Homo sapiens: one gene and its partner. Changing the gene in region 1 together with any one later gene gives a genetic interaction. Each region holds a gene or a part of one and is shown in the gene's direction. Other genes may lie near its edges. The genes, in order: CDC14A and CHEK1.

Region 1 (3,827 bases):
GTTTTAGCCAGTTTCTTGGGTCCTAGTTAACTGCTTTTGACAAAGCAACTTGATATGTATAACTCAAGGCTACATATTATCATAACACCAAGGGTGATGAGGAAGCCATCCTGACATCATTCACATTGATCAGATTCATCTTCATCATGTTCCCCTAATGTCATGAGTATGTGTTTTAGAAACGTGAGCTCTGTGTGATTGTACATTGTTGTCTGTTTTTTCCCTCCTCACTTGTGTTTTCCATTCAGCTTTTCCATAAACTCCCGGCTAGCCAGTTCTCTAGGGAACTTGAATGCTGCAACAGATGATCCAGAGAACAAAAAGACCTCCTCATCCTCTAAGGCAGGCTTCACAGCCAGCCCGTTTACCAACCTCTTGAATGGCAGCTCCCAGCCAACTACCAGAAATTACCCTGAGCTCAACAATAATCAGTACAACAGAAGCAGCAACAGCAACGGGGGCAACCTGAACAGCCCCCCAGGCCCCCACAGCGCCAAGACAGAGGAGCACACCACCATCCTCCGACCCTCCTACACCGGGCTTTCTTCTTCTTCAGCGAGATTCCTGAGCCGTTCTATCCCTGTAAGTGCGCAGACACCACCTCCTGGTCCTCAGAACCCTGAATGCAACTTCTGTGCCTTGCCTTCCCAGCCGAGGCTGCCACCAAAGAAATTTAATAGTGCCAAGGAAGCCTTCTGAGCGATGCCTTCCCTCTGTGCTGTGAAACTGTCTATGCACTACATTCTGCTAGCTCCTCTTCAAGTAAACGCCAAGTCACAACTGGGTTTTCTTCCTTCCTTCTTTTTCTTCTTACCCCCAACTCCTTTTTAAGTAGTTTCTCTTAAAAGGGAAATAGCTTTCATTCTTTTGATTATGGGCATTGTTGACTTCAGTTACTTTTCAGTTATGTTTCCAATCACTCTGAATATCTGGTGCTAAGCCAGGAGCTGATTCATACAGTGGATAGCATTTGCTGGGGGTGCGCTGGTTTGGGGAATTATGGCTTTTTCCGCATCATATATCAGTGAATTAATTTTGGAGTATTGAAACGTGGAAGGTGCTGAGTGAACAGTATCTTCCTAGAACTAAGCATTAGGCCCTTGAATATTTCACCTCCTGCAAGGAACTGACCCAGAATAAAATAAGTGGCAAGTGGAAGATATTTCTAAGAAGGGCTTATAGGTAGGTACCTGGGATGCAAGGTGGGGAGCAAGCAGAGTATCAGGAAGGTGTTTAAAAGTAGCCAGCACTCTTCTAGAGAAAGGTGGGAAGACCTCCAAACACATCTTACCAATGAGATCTCTATTTAGGTTACCAAGCTCTCTTTAACAATCAACAATACCTGGTAAGGTAAACTCTGTTGGTAAACTCCTATTATGAATTACTTTAATAACCTGTTTTGATTGCCTCTAGGGGTATTGAGATCTATAGGAATGTGAGTTTCGATTTGAGAGGAACAAGGACAAATAGGAAGGAGAAATCAATCCTATGTATTAAGGAAATATGAAGCATGGTACATATACATACAGTGTTGCAACACTGATCGTACTCAGGGCATGAACAAGCCCTGGGTGTCTTGGAAGGCTCTGGCCTGGTGTCGCTTCACACTTGCTATTCTTGAAACATTTCCTCAGCCATCATCTAGGGAGTGCCTGCTTCTGTAGAGAAGAGGGGAGGAGGAAAGGTGCTGGTGGCAGTGTGCTGCGTATGGCCCACTCAGCAAAACAGGAGCCCCATGGTTCATTCTTAATGATATCTACTTTCTTTAGTTGACAGTTTAGAAACCATGAGGATGGGCCAGGCTCAGTGGCTCATGCCTATAATCCCAGGACTTTGGGAGGCCAAGGCTGGTGGATCACCTGAGGTCAGGAGTTCGAGACCAGCCTGGCCAACATGGTGAAACCCCGTCTCTACAAAAAATACAAAATTAGCTGGGCGTGGTGGCACGCACCTGTAATCCCAGCTACCATAAGGCAGGAGAATCCCTTAGAACCTGGGAGGTGGAAGCTGCAGTGAGCCAAGATCGTGCCACGGCACTCCAGCTGGGTGACAGAGCCACTCTCAAAAAAAAAAAAAAAAAAAAAAAAAAAGAAACCATGAGGATGAGGATGTTTTCTAACATGAGAATGCAGTGTGTGTGTGTGTGTGTGTGTGTGTGTGTGTGTGTGTGTGTTCATGTGTGGTTGCATTAGATTCATTACCACTCCTGTCCCTACCTGAGACCTCTTTTAAAACTTTTACCCTCTCTGTCCACTCTCAACCCATTCCCTAAGAGGAGCCTGGCATATCTGATGTTCCCTGTCCTATTTTACAGGCATGAGCCACCATGCTTGGCCTTGGCATTAGTTTAGATTCTTTTACAGATTAGGGTCCCAGGAAATTGCCAGCCCATCTACCCCTTAATCTGATTCTGATCCCATGATCCCACTATAAAAATTGGGTGTATAGGTATCATAAAAACTTAAATCCATGTAACTAAGGATTAGATGTAAAAAGATAATATATTTACATTTTCCTAACTATATTTATAAATCATATACTTTCCAGCAGGCATTGAGTTCAGTCAGCATTTTCACATACCGATTGTGGATCAGCCTCTTCTTTTGGATCAGAATGCAGATCTTTCCATTTTCAGAAAAAGTGCTAGAGATATATAGATAATCATACAGTCATGTGCTGCCTAATGATGTTTTGGTCAATAACAGACCATGTATACAATGGTGGTCCCATAAGACTATAATGGAGCTGAAAAATTCCTATTGCCTAGTGACGTCGTAGCCCTCGTAGGGTTATAACTGCAGTACTCATGTGTTGTGGTGATGCTGGTGTAAACAGACCTACTGTGCTGCAGCCATATAAAAATCTAGCAATACAATTATGTACAGTGCATAATATTTGATAATAAATACCTGTTACTGGCCTATGTATATACTATACTGTACTTTATATCGTTATTTTAGAGTATACACCTTCTCCTTATTAAAACAAAAGTTAACTGTAAGCCTCAGGCAGGTCCTTCAGGAGGTATTCCAGAAGAAGGCATTGTTGTTATAAGAAATGACAGCTCCATGTGTTACTGCTCCTGAAGACCTTCCAGTGGGACAAGATGTGGAGGTGGAAGACAGTGATATTGATTATCCTGACCTGGTGTAGGCCCAGGCTAATGTGTGTGTTTGTGTCTTCATTTTAAACAAAAAATTTAGAAAGTAAATACTAAAGATATTTAAAATAAAAAAAATAGGATAAGGATGTAAAGGAAGAAAATACTTGGTACAGTTACACATACAATGCTTATTTTAAGTGTTAATTTCAAGTGATTGGGAGTTGATAAAAACATTAAAAAATAGTAAACTAAGTATTATTACAAAAGAGTCAAAAGTTAAAACAATTAAGTTTATAAAATAAAAATGTTACAGTAAGCTAAGGTTAATTGATTATTCATGAAAGAAAAATTTTTAATATAGATTTAGTATAACCTAAGTGTACAGCATTTATAAAGTCTACAGTAGTGTTCAGTAATGTCCTAGGCCTTCATGTTCACTCACCACTCACCCACTGACTCACCCAGAGTAACTTCCCTTCCTGCAAGCTCTATCCATGGTAAGTGCCCTTTACAGGTGTACAATTTTTAAGTCTTTTATACCATATTTTTACTGTCTATTTTCTATGTTTAGGTATGTTTAGACACACATACTTACCACTGTGTTATAGTTGCCTGCAATATTCAGTAGAGTAACATGCTGTACAGGTTTGCAGCCTAGAAGCAATAGGTTATACCATTTAGCTCAGGTGTGTAGCAGGCTCTACCATCTAGGTTTGTATAAGTG
Region 2 (3,827 bases), on another chromosome or scaffold:
TCAATCCCTAGGAGCTGCACCCCTGTTGATAGATTGGGTTGGGGACACACATACCCACTGGGAGAAGAGAGACTCTGGAATGAGTGAGATTATCAGCATACTTAATATTACTCCTGTTATGGAGGTAGCCAGCAAATTTTTTTTAATTGATACAATAATTGTAATGTATTCATGGGGTATGTAGTGATGTTTTGATTCATATAATGTATAATGATCAGATCAGGATAATTAGCATATTCATAATTTCAAACATTGTGGGAATGGGAATGTTCAGTGATGGGAATGTTCAGTATCCTTCTAGCAATTTGAAACTCTATTATTGTTAAGTATAGTCATCCTACAGTGGTCTAGAACTTACTCCTATCTAGCTGTAATTTTGTATTCTTTCATGAATCTCTATCTTTCCCTTCCCTCTCCCCTTCCTGGACTCTAGTATCCTCTGTTCTGCCTTCTACTTCTATGAAATTAACAGTTTTTTTGTTTCCACATATGAGTGAGAACATGTGATGTTTAATTTTCTGTTCCTGGCTTATTTCACTTTACATAATGTCCTCCAGTTCCACCCATGTTGCTGCAAATGACAGGATTTCATTCCTTTATATGGCTGAGTAGTATTTCATTGTGTATATATATCATATTATCCTCATCTGTTTGCTTGGCTTTTTGTTTTGTTTTTTTGAGACAGGGTCTCGCTCTGTCGCCCATGCTAGAGTGCAGTGGCGCAATCATAGCTCACTGCAGCTTCAACCTCCTGGGCTCAAGTGACCCTTCTGCCTCAGCCCCCTGAGTAGCTGGGCCTGTAGGCATGCACCACCATGCCCGCTAATTTTTTGGGAATTTTAGTAGAGATGAGGTATCGATATGTTGCCCAGCCTGGTCTGAAGCGATCCTTCTGCTTTGGCCTCCCAAAGTGCTGGATTACAGGCGTGAGCCACAGTGCCTGGCCTACACTCATCTGTTGTTGGATACCTAGGTTGATTCCATATCTTGGCTATTGTGAATAATGCTGTAGGGTTGCAAATTTCTCTTCCATATAATTTCCTTTCCTTTGGATCAGTAGTGGGATTGCTGGAACATATAGGTAGTTTTATTTGTAGTTTTTTGAGAAACTTCTATTCTGTTCTTCATAGTGGGTTTACTAGTTTATTATCTACTCACCCATGTGGCTTAACCTTATTTTTGTTGCCTTAGGTTACTATATCAACAACTGATAGGAGAAACAATAAACTCATTTTCAAAGTGAATTTGTTAGAAATGGATGATAAAATATTGGTTGACTTCCGGCTTTCTAAGGTATTTTTATGTTTTATTGTATTCTTTCTATGGAAATATTTCTATATGAATTTTTTTAATGGCATTATGTTTGTATATATGTGGCATTTGTAAATAGGTTACTTGCTTTTTTCGTTTAATATTATGAGCATGTGTTTTCGTTATCTATTTTTCCCGAACATTGTTTTTTTCAAATGACATTTTCCTTATTATAAAAGTTTTTGCCAGGCGTGGTGGCTCATGCCTGTAATCCCAGCACTTTGGGAGTCCGAGACGGGTGGATCTCGAGGTCAGGAGTTTGAGACCAGCCTGGCCAACATAGTGAAACCCCATCTTTACTAAAAATACAAAAAATTAGCCAGGCGTGGTGGCGGGTGCCTGTAATCCCAGCTACTTGGGAGGCTGAAGCAGGAGAATCATTTGAACCTGGGAGGCGGAGGTTGCAGTGAGCCGAGATGACGCCACTGCACTCCAGTCTGGGTGACAATACAAGAGACTCTGTCTCAAAAAAAAGAAATTTCTGCTTTTGTGAAAAATGTAGATAAGCAAAAAATGAGAAAATAAAAATAATTCTAAATTTTCAGTGATCACATTAATATTTCGAAGCATTTTAATATTTTTCTTAATTTATGTCTTTTAATAAAAATTATGATTTGTTACAAATATTTCATTATAATTTAATGAACCTTTACCAGTTATAATAATTCTGTGATTGCTATTTTATGCATAGATTTTTTTGTTCATATTTCTGATGATTTCTTTAGAAATCATTGATTCTAAGATGATAGTATTACAGCCCTTGATATATAAAACCAAAATAACATTTTTCTCTATTTTCTGAGAGATTGTATGTGGCTCTAAAGAGGGTTGGAGGGGTAGCTGCTGTGTTAGAGCATTTGCCGCAGTACTCTTTGTATTAGAGATTTGCTGCAATACTGTTTTTCAGATGCTTGCTACAGAATTAAATTAAGATCGTAGTATAATGAAATTCTTCTCATAACTAAATCTATTGATTTTGGTCAGTAGTGTTATGACAACAAGACTTCAGTTTAGTTGTATAGTTTATTGTTAGTTTCCAAACCCTCACTGCCTATGGAATGTAATGACTTAGGTCCAGATATACCAACACCTGAAACAGATAGGATGCCATGTTTATCTGCTCTCTGAGCTCAGTGCAGTAGGAACAGTGATGGGCATGAAACCACATCAGAATTATTTGTGTAACAATTTTCTCTTCCAGGATATTTGGTCTTCATAAACAGACCGAAAAGAAAATGGTAGCTAGACATACCTAAAGATGTTTGTCTCTTGTTACCACTACAAAGAGATTGATTTTAGGACAGAATTTTGTTTTTGTTTTTGTTTTGACATAATTTTTTAATACTATTTCTAATATAGGGTGATGGATTGGAGTTCAAGAGACACTTCCTGAAGATTAAAGGGAAGCTGATTGATATTGTGAGCAGCCAGAAGATTTGGCTTCCTGCCACATGATCGGACCATCGGCTCTGGGGAATCCTGGTGAATATAGTGCTGCTATGTTGACATTATTCTTCCTAGAGAAGATTATCCTGTCCTGCAAACTGCAAATAGTAGTTCCTGAAGTGTTCACTTCCCTGTTTATCCAAACATCTTCCAATTTATTTTGTTTGTTCGGCATACAAATAATACCTATATCTTAATTGTAAGCAAAACTTTGGGGAAAGGATGAATAGAATTCATTTGATTATTTCTTCATGTGTGTTTAGTATCTGAATTTGAAACTCATCTGGTGGAAACCAAGTTTCAGGGGACATGAGTTTTCCAGCTTTTATACACACGTATCTCATTTTTATCAAAACATTTTGTTTAATTCAAAAAGTACATATTCCATGTTGATTTAATTCTAAGATGAACCAATAAAGACATAATTCTTGTGACTTTTGGACAGTAGATTTATCAGTCTGTGAAGCGAAGCCAGCTTCAAAACATATCCCCAAGATTTGTACTTATATTTTCAAAAGGGCCTGGCCAGTTATATAAACCTGTTTTTGAATTATAATGATTAATTAAAATTGCAAGTAGGTGTTTTTTCCAGTGTAGTTAGTAAAATACTTGTATTTTACAGTGTTGCATAAACTCTAGTGCTTAACTAACTTTACTCTAAAAATTACTGTTGAACATCTTAAATATTTTTCTATATTTTCTACTTTCATAGCCATATTTTAACCTTTTCAACTTACTGGTGACCAAGCTTTTAGGTGATAAAGAATAAAAGAGGGAAGGGAAGAGTAAGGAAGCTATAAGAAAAATAGATCTGATTCTTTGTTCCTTTACCTGTTAGACTTACAAAAAGTTTGTTTTTCTAATAAAATTTGTATCAACTTTGGGGCATATTAGGTTGAGGCCTTGGCTCCTGCCTGTAGTCCCAGCTACTTAGGAGGCTGAGAGAGGAGGATCGCGTGAACCTGGAAGTTTGAGGCTGTAGTGAGCTATGATTGCACCAGTGCACTCCAGCTTGGATGACAGAGTAAGACCCTACCTCTAATAAAAATTTTTAAAATTGTAAAACATTA

The links.
Region 2: changes in CDC14A (region 1) and CHEK1 are lethal when combined (synthetic lethality), as found in Homo sapiens cells (one large-scale study listed by BioGRID).

Annotation. Positions count from the first base shown.
Region 1 is NC_000001.11:100,498,681-100,502,507, forward strand, and holds part of CDC14A (dual specificity protein phosphatase CDC14A), read left to right. Parts: intron 1-248; coding exon 249-582; coding exon of another isoform or gene 583-699; exon of another isoform or gene 700-780; intron 781-3,827. UniProt on the Homo sapiens protein: Dual-specificity phosphatase. Required for centrosome separation and productive cytokinesis during cell division. Dephosphorylates SIRT2 around early anaphase.
Region 2 is NC_000011.10:125,652,555-125,656,381, forward strand, and holds part of CHEK1 (serine/threonine-protein kinase Chk1), read left to right. Parts: intron 1-1,191; coding exon 1,192-1,293; intron 1,294-2,670; coding exon 2,671-2,766; 3' UTR 2,767-3,827. UniProt on the Homo sapiens protein: Serine/threonine-protein kinase which is required for checkpoint-mediated cell cycle arrest and activation of DNA repair in response to the presence of DNA damage or unreplicated DNA.